Linked DNA regions of Homo sapiens: regions 1, 2, 4 and 5 are each linked to region 3. The links come from fine-mapping of genetic effects on plasma protein levels. Region 3 holds a variant in brackets. A gene starts in each other region. All regions are shown on their forward strands.

What was found. A credible set is the group of variants that fine-mapping cannot tell apart. PIP is the chance, under the fine-mapping model, that this variant and not a neighbour inherited with it causes the effect. The UK Biobank Pharma Proteomics Project read protein levels with antibody pairs (Olink). The fine-mapping took linkage between variants from a reference panel, not from the people measured, so its PIPs are less certain.
Region 1: SUSD5 starts here. The variant in region 3 is the best candidate, but not a certain one, in a credible set for the plasma level of the SUSD5 protein (UK Biobank, PIP 0.58).
Region 2: it holds the start of VASN, and the variant in region 3 is the best candidate, but not a certain one, in a credible set for the plasma level of the VASN protein (UK Biobank, PIP 0.70).
Region 4: it holds the start of APOA4, and the variant in region 3 is the best candidate, but not a certain one, in a credible set for the plasma level of the APOA4 protein (UK Biobank, PIP 0.90).
Region 5: ART3 starts here. The variant in region 3 is the best candidate, but not a certain one, in a credible set for the plasma level of the ART3 protein (UK Biobank, PIP 0.60).

What each region holds. Positions count from the first base shown.
Region 1 is chr3:33,216,614-33,220,730 of GRCh38, forward strand. It overlaps SUSD5 (sushi domain containing 5), which reads right to left and starts at 2,197. Exons shown (of 5, transcript NM_015551.2): 1 at 2,073-2,197. The coding sequence starts at 2,184.
Region 2 is chr16:4,369,996-4,374,112 of GRCh38, forward strand. VASN (vasorin) reads left to right here and starts at 1,853. Exons shown (of 2, transcript NM_138440.3): 1 at 1,853-1,998. All of the region lies in intron 9 of CORO7-PAM16 (CORO7-PAM16 readthrough), which reads right to left. All of the region lies in intron 9 of CORO7 (coronin 7), which reads right to left. RefSeq lists an enhancer at 1,235-2,060.
Region 3 is chr1:179,600,643-179,604,759 of GRCh38, forward strand. The region is part of intron 4 of TDRD5 (tudor domain containing 5); the gene reads left to right. Among named protein-coding and RNA genes, the nearest start is that of TDRD5, 11 kb to the left of the region's middle. The variant T/C (reference allele first, on the strand shown) is at 2,085.
Region 4 is chr11:116,822,939-116,827,035 of GRCh38, forward strand. APOA4 (apolipoprotein A4) reads right to left here and starts at 366. Exons shown (of 3, transcript NM_000482.4): 1 at 205-366. The coding sequence starts at 253. RefSeq lists enhancers at 2,354-2,720, 2,575-2,869.
Region 5 is chr4:76,072,958-76,077,074 of GRCh38, forward strand. ART3 (ADP-ribosyltransferase 3 (inactive)) reads left to right here and starts at 1,752. Exons shown (of 12, transcript NM_001130016.3): 1 at 1,752-1,862; 2 at 2,924-3,001. The coding sequence starts at 2,933.

The sequences.
Region 1 (4,117 bases), not on the chromosome of region 3:
TTTTCCTTAGGATTCTGCCCACGCACATGATTTCAAAGACCATCCTTATACAGATGACACGTTTTTAGAAATAGTTTCTCTCCAAATCTATCTCTTCAAACATCTGTAATTCATCATACTTAAGCTGAGCATTTCTTCTTCTTCCTCCCGTCACCATAGCACACAAATAACTAAATGTAGGAACTGGTGGCAGCTAAGAATTTAGTACCAAAAAGAATCCTTTGATAATATAGCTTATAACTCTTCCTGGTTCTAGTATAAAAGTTGGAGCTCATAAAATTGAGTTTACTATAAGGAAGTATACCTATAATTGTCCACTGAGGAAGTGGGGAAAGAAAAGGAAGGAGAATGAAGAAAAGGAATCATTTCTGGCAAGCAGTAACAAAGAATCATGTGCTCTGGTGTTGTCCTTACTTTCTCTTTGACCAGTGACATTTCTGCCTTTAATTTTCTATGACCCGTATCAAGCTAGACAGGCACAAAATATTGATCCTTATCCACATGGCATTCCACTTAAACAGTTATAATGGGATGAAACTCTAAAACCTTATGGATTGCAAAAATATTTATTTAAAAGGAATTAAAGTTGGCACAATATATCTTGTTCAAAGATTAATATTAGCTCCAATTTATTCTACTTGCATTCTTTAAAATCAGCTTAATTTTCATGGCTCAATGTCAGTCAAAAAACACTACAGTGAAGAATTATCAGTAAACTGCTAATAGGTATGGGATTCTTTTGAGGAGTGATGGAAATGTTCTGGAATTAGATGCATGCAAACCATGGTTTTCACAACCTAATGAATATACTAAAACCCACTTAACTGTATATTTTAAAATGACAAATTTTATGTGAAATACATGTCAATTAAAAAAATTAGCAGTGGTTACTAACAGCCTTCAAAGTTAAAAATGTTTTGTCTCTAACACTCTCTCTGAGGATATGGAGAAATACGACATTCATCCTTAATTAGGAACGGAGAGCTTTTCAAGCCTGCACTTAAAACAGAGAGCACTAAAAACTCTACGACCTAGACGGTTTTTTCCTTGGCTTTCCCCTTTTCCTGACAACCATGCTTTTTTTTTTTTTCCCCATGTCTTCTAGTTTCACTCAATATCGTTGGCTAAACAAGAATCACATTTTAAAATATACAACGCATCCTAAATTGACGGAGGGCTTTTCTCTTTTATCAGTCTAATTCGTCCTAAGCTAGAACTACCTCATGGGTGTGAGAACTGCTGGCTTTAAGCTTGCTTCCTTCAGATGCTCCTGTACCAAGTCAGCGGGATTTTGTTCTAATATGAAAACACAGCTGAATTAGCTTTTCAAAAGGGAATGGATACAGAGCTCCAATCCTGCTCATTTTAGGGCAAGTATTACAAGCTAAATTCAGGCTGAAAAACCAAGCAAACGAACAAGAAGTGGATCAATTCTCAGAGAACCTGCCATAATCTGGCCCTTGCCCACTTCTCTACCTCATGTCTCAAGACGTCCCCTCGCCTCCAGGTACTTTGCTTTATCATTTGTCCCGTTTTTCCTGTCACTCAGAGACAGCCTTTGCACGTGCTTTTCCCTCTGGCCAGGCCATTCTCTCTCTCTTAGCCTCGCTGATTCCCACTCATCTTTCACGTCTTCCCGGACCAAGCCAAAATATCCGAGGGAGTTTTCTAACCATCGGCGGTGTCCTCAGGGGCACATTAATAGACGTTGAGAAACTGAGGGACGGCGGAAAATCACCCCTTAGCAGAGGAGGTTCTAGGGCACCTTAGAGGTGATTTCATTCGAGCTTTCTTGGAGACCTTAGGAAAGCCAGCGGCGGGACTGCGGGACCTACGCGCTCGGCGCTAAGGGAGGGTCCAGGCACCAGGCGGGCGTTTGGGCGCACGGGCACGCGGAGACTTGGTGGGCCAGGAGAGGGATGCTGGGTCGCAGGACCGCGGCTCGTTCGTTCCTCTCAGGCTTGCGCTTGCCGCTTGCCGGGCCGGTCAGAGGGAGCAGCCCCGGCGAGCTACGCCCTCCCTGCCCGGACCCCACGCTCCACCCCCCGCCCCGCCGCCTCCCGCACACTCACCATCCGCCCGCACCGAAAGGCGCGGCAGACCGAGCAGGAGCAGCGCCGCCGCCCAGAGCCCGGGGAGGCGTCTGTGCCAACGGGCAGGCGGGCTGGGTCCCTCGGCAGTCATGGTCCGGGAGTGCGCGGGCCAGCGGACTCGGGTGAGGGCTCTGGCTGCGTTTGGGGTTGCCCAGGCCACTGCCCAGCGTGCGCCACTCGGCTCTGCGCTCTGCGCTCGGCTCACGAATCGCAGGCTTCGCGCCGGGCGCGCCGAGAGGGAGGAGCGCGGAGAGCCGGGGGAGGCTCGGGACGCAGAGCCGGAGCGCCTGGGCCGCCGAACTCCCGGGGGTCTTCTCTGTGGCGCCGAGGAGGCGGCTGTAACCCGGCTCCGCCTTCGCGCTGGGCACCTGGAAACCTCGGTGCCAAAAGGGGCTGCGCTGGGCCGCGCGCTCTGCGGGTACAGCGGGGCGGAGGGCGAGGGCGCAGGGAGGCGGGGAGAGTAGCTAGCCGGCCGCAAGGAGCCCCCGCCCGTCTGGGGGACCCTTGGCGAGAGGGTGACGCAGTCTGACAGGCGGAGCCCCTCCGGCAGGGCCGTTAGACAACGAGTGTCTAACTCTGTCCTCGGCCTCTACTTTTCAACTGGCCTCCTCCCCCTCCCCACCAACACTCTTTTTTTTTTTTTTTTTTAATGAAGAGAGGAAAATCTAAGTTACCTACCACCCTCACTCTAAGGTGTGAAACGCATGGAATAGCGAAATTCCTCTTTCCTAAAAGCGAAGTTTGAGAGTCACTGAGGAAAGGATATCTTCAGGAACGCTTCCTTCACCACTTTTCCTGGTACGCTAGTATTTCTCAAGGAGCAGTAAGAGGGCTAGTGAGATTGTCACCATTATCACCCACCTCCCAAATCAGGGCTTTTTGACCTCGAAAGGGTCTGAGATTCGGACTCTGTCGGTCTGGTCTGGGAATCTACACTCTAAGTTAAAGTGTCCCAATGGATTCTGCTGCAGGGGTCCCTGTTTGACTTGATTCCTTCTTCCTGCTCGCCCCTAGCCTGTCTCCCTACCACCAGCCCTGTTCAGTGAAAGAAGAACTTGCTTTCTTCATAGGTAGAGTAATAAAGATCAGTATTGTTATAACTGAGGCATGCGCGGTGCTCTACAATTTGCAAATCCCTTTTATATTGATGTATGGGTCAACAAACATCTATTGAGTGCCCATACATGCCTGTCCCTGTGCTAGACCCTGAATGTGGCTGCAATCGGTCCTAAAAATGTTCACACTTAAATAAAATATACTTACAATTGAAAAAGTGATTGGTGCTAAAGGGGCAGATGATTATCCTCATTTAATGAACCAGGACACAGACATTGAAATAATTTACTTTCTTTTCACAGTAAGAACTTGGATTTGAATCCACATCTGATTTACTACAGGTGTCATTTTTCAGCTTGCATTAATTGTTGAAATGTACTGAAAAGATTTCTTCTCTCCTTATTACTTCCCATCAACTACAAGGGCTACTATTAATGAGTAATTATTTTGGATAATTAAACTTTGCTTTCAAAATACAAATACTGGCCGGACACGGTTGCCCAGGCCTGTAATCCAAGCACTTTGGGAGGCGGAGGCCGACCAATCACCTGAGATCAGGAGTTGGAGACCAGCCTGGCCAACATGGTGAAATTTCCATCTTTACAAAAATACAAAAATTAGCCGGGCGTGGTAGCTGTTAATGCAGTGAGGTGTTAAATGCAGTGAGGCCTGACAAGTATAAATGAATTTACTTAGCTCCTTCCCTTTTTTTTTTTTTTTTTTTTTTTTTTGAGATAGAGTCTCGCTCTGTTGCCAGGCTGGAGTACCGTGGAGCGATCTTGACTCACTGTAACCTCAGCCTCCCAGGTTCAAGCGATTCTCCTGCCTCAGCCTCCCGAGTAGTTGGGACTACAGGCGTGCACCACCACGCCCAGCTAATTTTTGTATTTTTAGTAGAGACGGGGTTTCACCATGTTGGCCAGATGGTCTCGATCTCTTAACCTCGTGATCCGCCGGCCTCGGCCTCC
Region 2 (4,117 bases), not on the chromosome of region 3:
GGACCTGTGTAAGGCCAGGGCACAGGATTGGGGCAGGGGGTGAACACCAGGCAGATGGGGTCTCTCCGTCTACAAGAACCTGCCACAGAGGTGAGAAGCTTCAAGGACATCAGGAGGTCCTGTTCCTTGAGGAAAGCCAGGCTGGAGGCTCTTGGAGCCCTCTTTACCCCTGACCCTGGGCATCTGTGGATGCTTCTGAGGGCTTCAGAGGACACAGGGCCAAGGGAAGAGGCAGGGAAACAGTCCGACAAGAGGCTGCACAGCACTGATTGGAAACTCAGATGGTTCTGGGGCCGGGCAGGAAACTCAAGTGAGTGGACAGCTTGGCAGGAGGCAGCAGGGAGTGGTGGGGACTGGGGTGACCCATGAGCCCACATTTTGGCAGAGGGAGCAACCGCCACTCAGCCCCAGCTGAGAGTTCCTGTTCAATGCAAGCTGGGAAGCCCCATTTTAATATGAAACCACCTGATTTTTCAATGTTAGCAGTGCCTTCAAAGTTGTAAAAACTCCCATAAAGCCTGCACTAAATGCACCCAAAGGCCAGCCCCAACCCAGGAACAGAGGTCCGCAAGCCATGCCCTAATCCATGTAGACCGAGAAACGTATGGGTTGTGGAGCCCTGCCAGCCCTGGAAAGGGGCCCTGTGGGGAGAGGGCCCTGTGGACGGGAGGTCCAGAAGGTGACTGTCCCAGCCAGGCCCTGCTTAGCCCTTGACGGCTAGACACAGAGGCCATCCTGCCTTCTGGAGATAACTGAGTCCTCCAGAGACTAGGAAACCCTCCAGCTGGTGTGGCCCAGCCTCCCAGGGATAAGCCTTCAGGCCCCCCAAAGACTAGAGCTAGCCCAGCCAAGGGCCTTGGCTACAGGCCGGGCTGGAGGGGGTGTGGGTGTCCCAAGGCTCTCCGGAAGTCAGGAGCTGAGCTGGGCCCCCAAAGGCTCTGAGGCATGACTGACCACAAACGCGGAGGGGGAGGAGGGCAGAGTGTTTTCCTGGAATCCTCCAAGGCAGGGGATTTTTCTGGACTAGTCCGGCCCCTGGCACCCGCCCCTCCTGCCCAATCAAGGGCCACTGTCAACTGCAGCCCAGGCCCCACCCACCGACGGTGACCACCCCTATGCCTCCACAGCTCAGGCTTGAAGCTGCCAGTAACTGTGGGGCCGTGGGCAGACCACCACTGCCCTCCCTGACACAGCCCCTTCATCTCATAATATGGTGGGGAAGAGAGTCCAGGGCTGCTCACAACTCTTAAGGCTGTCGTGGCTAAGAGGACCCTGAGCTCAGATTTGGCATTGGAGTTTATACTTAGGAGGCTCTTGAAAGGGCTTTGTGTGGGCTGCCAGGAGTTTTTTGAAATTGGGATTAGCTACCAACAATAACACATTGAGAGATTTCACCTAAAAATCTGGATTTCCAGTTTCTCTTCAAAAATCCAAAGCTCTAGCTGGCCCGGGCTGGTCATGAGGACTCAGCCCTTACCAGCCCCACTCCCGCCATCCTGCCTCTCCAGGGCCGCAGAGGCCCTGGGGTGGACTTCTGGCATTTGTCACCTGCCTGGTGCCTCATAGGCATCTGGGCTGTGACGCTTAGGATTCCTAAATAGTCTCTCGCTTTTTACACAAAAAGCAGAAACCTGCCCAGTGTCATCCGGCAAACCCACGACGGGCAAGGTCTCCCCGCGCAGGTCAGGTGGCCGCAGGGTGAGGGCCAGGGCAACCCGGCCCACGAGCCCCTCGGTGGGGAAGGGGCGTGTCTCCACGCGGCTCCGCCCCGGCCAATGGGGAGAGGCCCCGCCCCTGCCGCGGCGGGCCCGCCCCCCGGGACTCTTAAGGCGCGACCTGCCTCCAGCGAGCCGACTCCGGAGCCCGAGCCCGGGGCGGGTGGACGCGGACTCGAACGCAGTTGCTTCGGGACCCAGGACCCCCTCGGGCCCGACCCGCCAGGAAAGACTGAGGCCGCGGCCTGCCCCGCCCGGCTCCCTGCGCCGCCGCCGCCTCCCGGTGAGTTTCTGTGGGGCTGGGGGGCTGCGGGCGGGGAAGGGGGCGCCACGGCCAGGCTGTGCACACGCGCGGGGACCGCCGCCGCGCGCACACACGCACTCTCGGGCGGGACCGCGGCCCCAGCCCCACACGGTCACCTGGGCCGCCCGGCGGGCAGGCCCTGTACGCTCCCTCCCCCGCCGTCCTGGGGCGCCGACAGCCCCGCGGCCGGCCAGGGTGCGCGCCTGAGTGTGCGGTGAGCCCGCGAGGCTGCAAGCAGACAAAATAAACACCCCGTCCCATGCTTCCTCCTCCCACGGCTGGGCCTCCGGCATGACCAGTTTTATGAATCAAACCCCTTTGAGGGGGATAGCCAAGCCACAGGCTTGGGTCACTTTTCCCTCCTGGGGTCCGGCAGTAGGTGCTGCTGTGCAGAAGGGCTGCCCGGGGTCCTCTGGACCCTTGTCACTCAAAGCACAGCTGGGGGCTACAGATATGCAGCCCTAGGGAGGGGCGGGGAGTGGCTGGTGGGCGTCCGATGCCCATCCCTCCAGGTGGGGGATGGACCTGTACTGGCCAGGGCCCTTAGAGCTTCGGGTATCAGGCAGGGTGCCGGGTCTCTGCCTCTGCCAGGGAAGGGGCTTTGCTTGGGCTGCAAACCCAGTGGCCTGGAGCCAGCCTAGTCCTTTGTGTCCCTGGGCTGGCAGTGCTGGGGCCTGAGGACTGCTGAGGTCCCCTGTGGTCACTGGCAGGCCAGCCGATTGGTGCCAACCATTCTGCCTCTCCCCCATTCGTTAACGATTGCCACACCAGGGTCACTGACCGCCTCCCCTGCTGTGGCCCAGGGGTGGAGTGTGCAGGGTGGAAGGAAGAGGTCCTGGGGGTCTAGGTGTCCCCATGCCTGCCTTTTGCACCAAGGACAGGTGAGGCTCTGGAGAGAGGCAGCGGGACCTAGAGCCCCCTTCCCCAGGCTGAGAGCCTCCAGGGCTGGGGATTGGATAAAATCTCCAAGGTCCCTTCACACTAGACTGTACTTTGGGTGTTGAGGGCATAGAGGGGTGGCCGGGCTGGGACCTTCCAAGCAGGGTCCATTAGGGCCAGTCCAGGGGGCAGCAAAGTCCAGGATGGGCCCAGCTATTGACAAAAACCCAACAGAGCTGGGGCAGGCGGGTGGGGGATGGGGAGCAGTCCCCTGAGTTTACTCTCTTCTCCCAGGGGAGTTGGCCTGGAGCTTCTGTAAACAGAGTGTCAGAGGCAGGAAGAGGCTCTGGTGATGAGCAGCCCAGCTGGATCCCCTCCAGACCATTATCTAGCCTCCCCTGGGCCTGGGGAGGGAGGATGCGCACACACATGCCAGCCTGGGGGCCGGGCACTGCCTGTCCCCACCCCGCCCCTGTCTCCTGCACGTTGGAACAGCTGTCCTGCTACCTGTGGGTCCGGAGGGTCAGATGGGGATGGGGCTGGGGGCTGGGGTCCCAGGGCATTTGTCCAGATGGCACCTCTCTCTCCATATTCTGGGAATGGGAGAATGGGATTCAGCATAAGGAGCCTCTCAGACACTGCCCAGACCTGTGCTTACCCGAGGAAGGCCCCTCTGGCACGCAGCCCAGGGGCCAGGGAGATGGCAAGGGAGATGCCCCGGGCAGGAGATGGGTCCGCGGCTCCTAGCTCCCATTACTGTCACCCCCACTGACAGCCCCGGGGGAGCTGGGACAAGTCCCAAGTACAGAAAATTAAGTCCTTGCCTGGGCTTATAAGTGGGTCCCAACACAACACTGGGCAGCCTCTGGGAACAAGAAAGCAGGGCCCTGCTGAGCCCAGGAGGGAGCTCCCACCTCAGCAGGCCAGACAGCCAGTCCTGCCAGTGAGCAGAGGTGTGTAGAGGGGAGGCTGCCCACAGGGATGGCTATCCCTGACCACTGGCCAGCCCTGAGCTCATGGGAGGGCAGCAAGGCCACCTAACTCTGTTAGTGACCTCTCCTGGACCCCCCATCAGCTGCCCTTAGAGTCCCCTCCCTGGGCTGGGGAGCCCAAGGCTCTGTGCTGCCAAGAAAACCAGCTCCCCTCACTGCTGTGGAATTTGCGTGAGTTCTTGGAGAAGGGGGAGGGTGCACGTGTGTGTGTGTGTGTGTGTCTGCAG
Region 3 (4,117 bases):
CTGTTCTCATTGTTTTGTAACTTCTGTTTACTTTGGGTTAATTTCCTCTTTGCTCTTAAGGTAGAAGTTTGGTCATTGATTTTGCTCCCTTTTTAATGTAAACATTTAAGGTTATAAATTTCTTCTAAGTATTGCTATAGCTACATCTCCCAAACTTTGATATGAAATTCAAATTTGATAGGAAAACTCATTTTCAGGTCAAAATTTACTAATCTCCCTTTTGGTTTTTTCTTTGTATCATGGATTATTTAGAAGTGTGTTGTTTAATATCCAAATATTTGGGGATTTTTTTCAGAGATGTTTCTGTTCGAATTTCATTGTGGTCCAACAACATAGATTTCATTCCTTATATATTTATTGAGACTCATATGGCTCAGAATATGTTTATCTAGGTAAATGTTTCATAATTCACTTCAAAAGAATATGTATTTTGCTATATTTGAGTATAATATTCTATAAATGTCAATTAAGTCAGTTATGTCATTGATTTCTTTTTAACTTTTTTAATGAACTACTGAGGGAGGAGTATTGAAATTTTCAAACATAATTATAGATTTGTCTATTTTACCTTTTAGTTCAGTTGGTTTATGGTTTGGCTATTTTGTTTTTTGGGTTTTTGTTTGTTTGTTTTATTATTTTCCACAGGTGGTTGAGGTACAGGTGGTATTTGGTTACATGAGTAAATTCTTTAGTGGTAATTTGTGATATTTTGGTGCCCCCATCACCCAAGCAGTATACACTGCACCCTATTTGTAGTCTTTTATCCCTCACCCCCTTCCTACCCTTCCCCTCATGTCCCCAAAGTCTTTGTATCATTCTTATGCCTAGGCGTCCTCATAGCTTAGTTCCCACATATCAGTGAAAACATGATGTTTAGTTTTCCATTCCTGAGTTACTTCACTCAGAATAATAGTCTCCAGTCTCATCAAGGTCACAGCAAATGCCACTGATTCATTCCTTTTTTATGGCTGAGTAGTATTCCATTGTATATAGATACCATAGTTTCTTTATTCACTTGTTGATTGATGGGCATTTGGGTTGGTTCCATGATTTTGCAATTGCAATTTGTGCTGCTATAAATGTGCATCTGCAAGTATCTTTTTCGTATAATGATTCCTCTGGGTAGATACCCAGTAGTGGGATTGCTGGATCAACTGGTAGTTCTACTTTCAGTTCCTTTTGAGATGGAGTCTTGCTCTGTCGCCCAGGCTGGAGTGCAGTGGCACAATCTTGGCTCACTGCAGCCTCCATCTCCTGGGTTCAAGCAGTTCTCCTGTCTCAGCCTCCCGAGTAGCTGGGACTACAGGCACACGCCATCACGCCCAGGTAATTTTTTGTATTTTAGTAGATATGGGGTTTCACCATGTTGTCCAGGCTGGTTGTGAACTCCTGAGCTCAGGCAGTCCACCCACCTCGGCCTCCCAAAGTGCTGGGATTACAGGCATAAGCCACCGTACCTGGCCTACTTTTAGTTCTTTAAGGAATCTCCACAGTGTTTTCCTTAGCAGCTATACTAGTTTACATTCCCACCAGCAGCATAGAAGTGTTCCCTGTTAACCGCATTCATGCCAACATCTGTTTTTTGATTTTTTGATGATGGCCATTCTTGCAGGAGTAAGGTAGTATCTCATTGTGGTTTTGATTTGCATTTCCCTGATCATTAGTGATGTTGAGCATTTCTTCATATGTTTGTTGGCCATTTGTATATCTTCTTTTGAGAATTGTCAATTCATGTCCTTAGCCCACTTCTTGATGGGATTGCTTGTTTTTTTTCTTACTGATGGGTTTTTGGTCATGAAATCCTTGCCTAAGCCAATGTCTAGAAGGGTTTTTCCAATGTTATCTTCTAGAATTTTTATAGTTTCAGGTCTTAGGTTTAAGTCCTTAATCCATCTTGAGTTGATTTTTGTGTAAGGTGAGAGATGAGGATCCAGTTTCATTCTCCTACATGCGGCTAGCCAATTATCCCAGCACCATTTGTTTAAAAGGGTGTCCTTTCCCCACTTTATATTTTTGTTTGTTTTGTCAAAGATCAGTTGGCTGTAAGTATTTGGGTTTATTTCTGGGTTCTCTATTCTGTTCCA[T/C]TGGTCTATGTGCTTATTTTTATACCAGTAGCATGCTTTTTTGTTGACTATAGCCTTATAGTATAGTTTGAAATAAGGTAGTGTTATGCTTCCAGATTTGTTCTTTTTGCTTAGTCTTGCTTTGGCTATGCGGGCTCTTTTTTGGTTCCATATGAATTTTAGAATTGTTTTTTCTAATTCTGTGAAGAATGATAGTGATATTATGATGGGGATTCCGTTGAATTTGTAGGTTGCTTTTGGCAGTATGGTCATTTTCACAATATTGATTCTATCCATCCATGAGCATGGGATGTGTTTCCATTTGTTTGTTTCATCTATAATTTCTTTCAGCAGTGTTTTGTAGTTTTCCTTGTAGAGGTCTTTTGCCTCCTCGGTTAGGTATATTCCTAAGTATTTTGTTATTTTTGCAGCTATTGTGAAGGGGTTGAGTTCTTGATTTGACTCTCCGCTTGGTCACTTTTGGTGTATAGAAGGGCTACTGATTTGTGTACATTAATCTTGTATCTGGAAACTTTGCTTAACTCTTTTATCAGCTCTAGGATCTTTCTGGAGGAGTCTTTAGGGTTTTCAAGGTAAATGATCATATTGTCAGCAAACAATGACAATTTGACTTTCTCTTTACTGATTTGGATGTCCTTTATTTATTTTTCTTGTCTGATTGCTCTGGCTAGGACTTTCAGTACTATGTTGAAGAGGAGTGGTGAGAGTGGGCATCTTTGTCATCTTCCAGCTCTCAGAGGGAATGCTTTCAACTTTACCCATCCAGTATTATGTTGGCTGTGGGTTTGTCATAGATGGCTTTTATTACATTGAGCTATGTCCCTTGTGTACCGATTTTGCTGAGAGTTTTAATCATAAAGCAATGCTGGATTTTGTTGAATGCTTTTTCTGCATCTATTGAGTTGATCATGTGATTTTTGTTTTTAATTCTGTTTATGTGGTGTATCACATTTATTGACTTGCATATGTTAAACCATCCCTGCCTCCCTGGTATGAAACTCACTTGATCATGGTGGATTATCTTTTTGATATGTTGTTGCATTTGGTTAGCTAGTATTTTTGTTAAGGATTTTAGCATCTATGTTTATCAGGGATATCGATCTGTAGTTTTCTTTTTTTGTTATGTCCTTTCATGATTTTGGTATTAGGGTGATGCTGGTTTTATAGAATGAATTAGGGAGGCTTCCCTCTTTCTCTAGCTTGTGGAATAGTGTCAAAAGGATTGGTACCAATTCTTCTTTGAATGTCTATTAGAATTCTGCTGTGAATCTGTCTTCTCCTGGACTTTTTTTTGTTGGTAATTTTTAAATTACCATTTCAATTTCACTGTTTATTATTGGCTGTTCAGGGTATCCAATTCTTCCTGACTTAAGCTAGGCAGGTTGTATTTTTCCAGGAATTTATCCATGTCTTCTAGGTTTTCTAGTTTATGTGCATAAAGGTGTTTGTAGTAGCCTTGAATAATCTTTTGTATCTCAGTGGTGTCAGTTATAATATCTCCTGTTTCATTTCTTGATGAGGTTATTTGGATTTTCTCTCTTCTCTTCTTGGTTTATTTTTCTAATGGTCTATTAATTTTATTTATCTTTTCAAAGAACCAGCTTTTTGCTTCATGTATCTTTTGTATTTTTTTGTTGTTGTTAATTTCATTTAGTTCTGCTCTGATCTTGGTTATTTCCTTTCTTCTGCTGGGTTTGGGTTTGGTTTGTTTTTGTTTCTCTAGTTCCTTGAGGTATGACCTTAGAATGTCAGTTTGTGCTCTTTCAGCCTTTTTGATGTAGGCGTTTAGGGCTATGAAGTTTCCTCTTAGCACCACCTTTGCTGTATCCCAGAGTTTTTGATAGACCGTGTCATTATTGTCATTGAGTTTGAAGAATTTTTTAATTTCCATCTTGATTTCATTTTTGACCCAATGATCATTCAGGAGCAGGTAATTTTCCATGTATTTGCATGGTTTTTAAGGTTCCTTTTGGAGTTGATTTCCAGTTTTATTCCTCTGTTGTCTGAAAAAGTGCTTGATATAATTTCAATTT
Region 4 (4,097 bases), not on the chromosome of region 3:
AAACTGGTATAGCACCAATGCCAATGGGCCCACCACTGGGACTGGGCCAGCTCTCCTGTGAGCCACTTGGCAGCCAGGCAGACCTCATGTCCAGCTGGGGGCTGATGGGCACTCAGAAGTGTCCTTTTGCTTTGGCTCAGCCTCCATCCTGCACTACTCAGAGCAGCAGCCCAGGAGTGCCATCCAAAGACAGCTTCTACTCACCGGCGACAGCCACCAGGGCCAGGGTCAGGACCACGGCCTTCAGGAACATCCTGAGCTGCTTGCTGGGCTGGAGGAGTTTCTTGCCACACTGGATCCTCCCTACAATCAGGGGAGCTGACAGAGAGGTCCTCAGGAGAGCTCACCTGCGCTGCAGTGGGAACTGACTGAAGCTCAGAGCCAGCCAGACATTTAAACTCTCTCCCTATCGCCACCCCCCTGGCTGCCCTCCCCTCCTCCTTCCTCAGTGTGACTCCACGCTGGAAGGTGACACATTCCCAAGAGGCCTCTTGGACTTTTGTGACCCTGAGACTACGTGGAAGCTGACAGCAGATCAGGGCTCAGGCGATAGTTAGAAGTGGTGGCTGTTCCGTGCGTGGGCACCCCCACCCCCACCCCACCAACCTCAGCATGGAAGGGAGGAGGGGAACGGAAAACAGTAGGAGAAACACCTCAGGGAGCCCATGAGCCCGGGACTGATGCCTCGAGGCCCTGCTGGCGGCTCTGGGTTTGTGCCGGGCTCATGGGGGGCAAAGTCCACATCTCCTCTGTCTACCCCAGTGAAGACAGGTCCCCCCAGTCTCCACATCCGCCACTAATGCTGACTCCATCTCAGAGCACCAGACACTGGAGTGGGACCATCCAGGACTGCAGACAGCATAGTGAGCTAAAATCTAGGTCTCTTGTCAAGGTACACCCAAGAGGAGGGGGCCCTGGAGAGCCTTTGGGCAGATGGGTGTGGGAGACAGGGCCTTGTCCTGAAAGGGTTAATTGTAGAGTGCTTCATGTCCCACTCCCATGCTGTGCCTCCTTGGTCTAGTTATTCAAAGCCCTGAGCTTCAGTTTCTCCTCTGAACAATGGGATGGTTCAGTACATTAAAGAAGACATTGCTTGCGAAGTGGGTAGTACGGTCATCTCTCAGTCTCCATGGGAAATTGATTCCAGGACCCTCTGCAGATACCAAAATCCATGGATGTTCAAGTCCTTGATATAAAATGGCATAGTATTTGCATATAACCTAAGCACAGCCTCCCACATACTTTAAATCTCTAGATTACTTATAATACCTAATACGACGGAAATGCTGTGTGAATGGTTGTTATACTGTATTGTTTAGGAGGTAATCACCAAAAAAGTCTGTATATGTTTAGTACAGGTGCAATTTTTTTTTTTTTTGAGATGGAGTCTTACTCTGTCACCCAGGCTGGAGTGCAGTGGCACGATCTTAGCTCACTGCAATCTCTGCCCCCCAGGTTCAAGTGATTCTCCTGCCTCAGCCTCCTGAGTAGCTGGGATTACAGGCACCCACCACCACGCCCAGCTAATTTGTGTATTTACAGCAGAGACGGGGTTTCACCATGTTGCTCAGGCTGGTCTCCAACTCCTGGCCTCAAGCAATCCTCCCATGTGGGCCTCCCAAAGTGCTGGGCTTATAGGCGTGAGCCACTGCGCCCTGCCCAGATGCAATTTTTTTAAAACATTGTTTTTAATGGAGATGGGGTGTCGCTATGTTGCTCAGGCTGGTCTCCAACTCCTGGCCTTAAGTGATCCTCCAATCTCTGCCTCCTAAAATGCTGGGCTTACAGGCATGAGCCACTGCACCCGGCCCACAGATGCAATTTAAAAAAAAAAATATATATATATATATATATATATTTTTTTTTTTTTTTTTTTTTTTGAGATGGAGTCTTGCTCTGTCACCCAGGCTGGAGTGCAGTGGCACGATCTCGGCTCACTGCAAGCTCTGCCTCCCGGGTTCACGCCATTCTCCTGCCTCAGCCTCCCAAGTAGCTGGGACCATAGGCGCCCGCCACCACGCCCGGCTAATTTTTTTTTTTTTTTTTGTATTTTTAGTAGAGATGGGGTTTCGCCGTGTTAGCCAGGATGGTCTCGATCTCCTGACCTCGTGATCCGCCCGCCTCAACCTCCCAAAGTGCTGAGATTACAGGCGTGAGCCACCACGCCCGGCCTAAAAAATTATTTTCAATCCAAGGTTGGTTGAATCCATGGACACAGAAACCAAGGATACAGAGGGCTGCCTATAGAGCTCCTGGCACAGAGTAAGCTCTGAAAAATAGTTGCTGTTATTATAATAATCATACTGTATAATAATCATACTGTGTTCCTGATTTGGAGCAAAGCAGGGAGGGTAGCAGAGTGCTCCCTCCTCTAGTGAGAGTGGCAGAGTGAGACTCAGCCCTCTGAGGGGCGCCAGGTGGGCCAGAGGCAGGGTGATGGGTGGGACCAGCCTGAGGCCTGACTCCTGCCCTTCTTGCCCCCCAGCCACACTCCCTGGGCAGGAGCAGCTGGCTTGAGCAGAATCTTGGGACCTGAGGCTCTCAGGGGACCTCCCATTGGGGGATGGAGGGCAATGGTGGTGGTGCCCAGGAGGTCTTCTACTTAGATGTCTATTGGATCTCTAAATGAGGCTGCATGCATAATCACACACAAACATCCACTGAGAAGGTGACACACCACGTCAGCATGGGTCCCTCTGCCGGACCACACCACTCCTAGTGACTATGAGGTGACATCCAGGCACGTTGCACTATTGGCTCCTGTCGGTGAGTGCAGTGCCTGACAACAGTGAGCTACATTTATTTGTAAAAATGAACGCCATCAGAGTAGACCACAATTGTACTAACTCTAATTTGCTTTGTGTTCATTTTTTCAGTTTCCAGAAGTGGCTTAATGTTTCCTAGGGTCAAAGGCAGTCAAATGACCTCCTGACTCTGGCACCCCTTCTGCTGGGTCCCCACTGCCCTGTAGTGGTCCCCACGCTACCATGCTGCCTCCTTTTTGATGCAGCCTGTGCCATCTCTCCGTGATTGTTGGGGTCAGATGCTGGAGTCCACTCCCTGGCTTGGCATCCAGGCTCCAACACGTACTGCCTGTGTGTCCTTGGGCAAGTCTCATAACCTCTCTGAGCCTCAGTTACCTTGGTGAGACATAACCATTGTACCTGCCTCCTAGGCTGTGAGGATTCACTGAGATGATCTTATAGTGCTTGCAACAATGTCTGGCACATAGGAAAAGTGATCACTAAATGTTAGCCACGTCTTACTCCTGCAAGGCTCACCTCCCTGGAACCCATCGGTCCCAACCCTGCTCCTGAATCAGGCACAGTCCAGCTTGCAGCGGGAGCAAAGGTCAGTACTCAGTGCCCCTGTCCCTTCCCCAGGCCAGAGGGGAGGAGGAGACTGAGTCACGAATGACACCTCAGCCGCAGTTTGACCTCCAGGACTTACAGTCCTAGCAGCCGGTGCCACTAGCATGTGAGAGGTCCAGAGGCGCTTCTGTCTCACCCGCCCGCCTGGGTGCACCCATGCTGGGAGCGCCTGCACCATTTGAGCATGTCCGAGAGCATCCACCAGAGTGTGTGTGGATTCACAGAAGTGTGCAAATCACTAAGAACCAAGGGACTGGCACAGCCCATGCGTGCACCCACGCTCGCGAGGGGACCTGCTGCCTTTCAACGTGGCGGGGACGTGACCTGTTAATGAATGTATTTACTTCCCAAAGTCTGAGGGTACGTTTTGCATCAATCTGTAGATGGATTTGTTTTGGGGAGCAGGGAGAGAATGAGAGCCCCCTGTGCTCAGTCTTAGAGGGTGCAAGTAGCTGATGGGAAGAGCAGACTGCCTTCCAGCCAGGCCTGGTCCTGTGAGTCAGGGACGTCCATCTTAGTGGGCATGAAAGGCCTGTGTGATCTCGAGGGAGACATCGCCTCTCCAAGCCTCTCCTTATCTGTGCAACAGGCAGACTTAATGATTGGTGAGGCAATGAGGCTGATAGCTCAGCATTAGCTACAGCCACCCCTCCTGGCCAACCACACAGGGATCAAACCAGGGGTCAGTCCAGAGGTCAGAGTCAGGAGCAGACAACTCAGATCCAG
Region 5 (4,117 bases), not on the chromosome of region 3:
AAATTGCAAACACTCCATGCGCTCCTAGTCTCCTTTGTGCTACTTATAAACAAAAGCCAAAACCATAGCACTCACTACATTCTAACATACTTGCATAATTTACGTACTTATTTTAGTTATTTGACTGCCTTCCCTCACAAGAATATAAACTTCACAAAGGCAAGATATTTATCCATTTCGTTCACTGGTATATCTCTAGTACCTAAAACAGTTCCTAGCACATTTTAAGGACTCAAATATTTGTTCAATGAATGAATGAAAGAAATTTGGTTAAAAACTGGAACAAAACAGGAATGGAGGCCAGCGACAGGAGAACTTCTCTACCTCATTTCCTGTAGGCCTACATGCTTGGAACTTAAAAGCAGGTTGTTGTGAGCCTAAGGCCTGAAGACATGCAAACTTTCTTTTTTCTTTCTAACCAAACTCCTGCTTTTTAAAAAATCATATTATTTCTGGGAGTGAGTCTGTGCTGTGTATTTAATCTTGGATTGCCAAGCCAGTGAGGTGGGAAAAGGTTGGAACATATCTCTATTCTAAAGAGTAGAGTTGGATTTTGTAAATATAGGTGTATTTCATGATAATTTAAAATGTTTTCTTGAAGTAATATATGTGTGTACAAAAAAAACACATATCATAAGTATATAGCTCACTGAATTTTCACAAACTGAATTTGTCAATGTAATTGGCATCCATAGCAAAAAGCAGAACCCAGCTAACATCTCAGATGCTCCTCTGTGCCCTTTCCAGTTACTAGCTACTACCCAGGGTGACCACTATTCTGACTTCTCATGCCTTGGAAGTGTTTTGCCTAATTTTGTTCTTGATATAAATTAAATCATACAGTATAAACATGCTTGTATCTCTTTTTTTACTCAAAATTTTGTTTGTGAGATTTATCCACATTGTTATATATGGTCAGAGTTTGTTCGTTTTCATTGCTATATAAAATTTCACTTACAGTCTAACCATTCTACTGTTGATGGATATTTGGTTTCCAGTTTGGGGGTTATTATGAATAGTGCTACTATCAACATTCTATTAATGTATTTTGGTGTATGTATGCGTGAATTTCTTTGGACATTTTTGTGTTTTTTAAATCCACAGTCAGTGAACCCTAAGTGTTCCTCAGCATTGCAGTCAGTATATTTACCATGTATGCGTTACTCAAATGACAGCTGTAGTTGCAGGCATTACCAAATCCTTCCCTCCTTAATGTTATCACTGGACTTTGTCTATACTTGGGATTCTTAACATGTTGTATTTTGGTTAAGTATGCGTATTCATGTTTTTTATTAGATTTTGAGTGCTTTTTAGTACTTTGTTTTACTTGCTTATGTATCCCGACTCCTGACGAGGTACCTGAAATATAGTAAGCTAGTTGAGCGAATGGTGATAGCTGTCACCATTGCCAGTGATTAACAGAGCAAGTTTCCCTAGTTATGTGAATCACTTAGCCTAGAGTAAAATCCATGCTTTAGTTTGATATCTCAGTGTCAAAGGATTAGGAATGGGAAGTCATTTCTCTCTGAGAGAAGCCCAGAACTGTGGGCTCAGAACTGAATGTGCTGTGTGGCTAAAGGGAATTGCTATGGCTTTACAAGCCTCTTGGAGATTTAAAGTGTTAACAGCAGTGATTCCAAGGCATAGTGTGGGGGGGCCAGATATAAATAGCAGAACACAAGTAGCGTAGTGTGCCACTGCCAAGCTACTGCTGGGGGTGTTTATAAAAAGAAAAGCATTCCTGTCTCAGCTCTCACTGTCAACAACATCCCATCCTGAAGACTTGCTTACCACAACTGAGAGTGGGGAGTCAGTTTGAGGCCTAGCATCACTTAAACTTCCTCCAAAGGCACAAAAGCCAGGTAAACCTTTTGACTTATTTACACTCAGACTAAAGAAATGAACAATTTTTAGGAAAATCCTGATCAAAGCTTGCTTAAAACATATTGCCTTGTGACAGATATCTATCATCTTATATTCAAATCTTTTTTGGAAAGAGAAGTTTAACACAAAGTAGCATGTTGGTACTATATTTTAGTATTTTTAGTAAAAACAAAACAAAACTGCTTCTGAAGAAATATGGGAAACTGAGGCCAAAATGATCTATAAAAGGGAAGACTTCTCCCTTCCCCTGTGCTGTTCATTCTCATTTTTAGAATCCAGAATATGGTGATTGGTAGGGTAAAATAGAAGCTTCATTTGAGTTACATTATCATAAATACTGGGATGAATATTAGGCATTCGGCCAATAGTTGTATAATCTTAGAATTGCTGCCTACCCAGTTCCTTCTTATTCTTGTTCCCGCCTTCAGAAAGTTATGTAAGACACTTATTTTACCCTCGGGCTTCTCTTGATTGTATTTGGGGGAAGGGGGCCATCTCTGACAATCCACTGCTTTGTACCACTACTGACCTCATCATCTCCTCTGTCCCACTCAAAAGGGCATGACAATGTGCAAAGAGGATAGAAGAATGGATAATGTGCATGGACATATTCCTGGGGAATTCTTAGAAACTGGGAGCTAGGGGACCAATTTGAGACTGCTGTTTTTTAGTCTGATTGTGTTATTTCCTGTGCACGCTGAGGGGAGATTTAGAGATGGGAAGAAAATATGACTCCCAGTGACTGTGGTGGGAGAGATGACATGTCTGGAGGAGTATGGAAATGCACAGATTTAATCTTGAGCAAATCACTGAAATTCTAAGGTGTTTTTGTTTCCTCGTCTGTAGAATGAGAGCATTAGACCACTAGATAAAGCCTAATGGCTCTTGTAGCCCGTTAGGAATTTATTGATAATCACTTCCTGACCATCATGCTATCCACTCACATTCTAAATGAAAAAATACGCAGTGTCATCCTATTCTACTTCCCTACACCTCTTTTTTGAGTCTACTGAATTGAAATTTCTTTATTTTAATTTAGAAGAGAAAAATGAAGACGGGACATTTTGAAATAGTCACCATGCTGCTGGCAACCATGATTCTAGTGGACATTTTCCAGGTAATGTTGGGAATGGGAAGCATGTGGTCATTGGAATGGAAATTCGTTTTTTTTTTTTTTTGAGACGGAGTCTCTCTCTGTCGCCCAGACTGCTGGAGTGCAGTGGCTCGATTTCGGCTCACTGCAAGCTCCGCCTCCCAGGTTCATGCCATTTTCCTGCCTCAGCCTCCCCAGTAGCTAGGACTACAGGCGCCTGCCACCACGCCTGGCTAATTTTTTGTATTTTTGGTAGAGACGGGTTTTCACCATGTTAGCCAGGATGGTCTCGATCTCCTGACCTCATGATCCGCCCACCTCGACCTCCCAAAGTGCTGGGATTACAGGCGTGAGCCACCGCGCTTGGCCTGGAATGGAAATTCTTGATATAACATTACCTGAGGCATCTGTGTGGCTTGATGGTGGAAATGAAAGTAGGTAGGATAGGTAAATTAATTATAAGTAGCTCTTTTCATTTTAAATATGTGACAGATTAACTGTAAAAAGTTGAAAAAATTAAAATTAAGCAAAAAGAGGAAAGTAAAGATTATTCATAATTCCTCCACTCAGAGGGAATGATTCCCAACCTGTTGGTGTATACAGGCTTCTTGGCTTTTTTCTATGTGTATACTGTTTTTAATTTACAAAAATGGGTTCACACTGTACATAGAATTTTTTCTTTGCATTTTAAGTTAATACTATGCTGCATGTCACGCATGTCATCAGATATTCTGAATATATGTTTTTCTCCAAATAAGATAATGCTGCATTGTTTGATTACATGTTTTTTAATTAATGACCATTTTCCCACATTTTTTTTCTGGCAGAACTTTTATGATTTTATTTGCAATTGACTCTTTAAGCATCCTGTAACATATTTTTATGTAAAATATAATATTTCACTTGATTTTTTTTCCCCACGTTGTTAGCTGCCACATTACTTGTGGGTATTTGTGCACCATTTTAGATGCCTTTTTAAAAATATCTTAAATTCTTAAACTGTTATCCTTTTTTGAATTTAATATTCTAATCCATTTTCTATAGAATCATTGTGTATCCTGTTTCCTGTGTCGCAGTATGTTTTTTATTGAAATATAATTTACATACCATAAAAATTCACCATTTTTAGCTGTATACTTC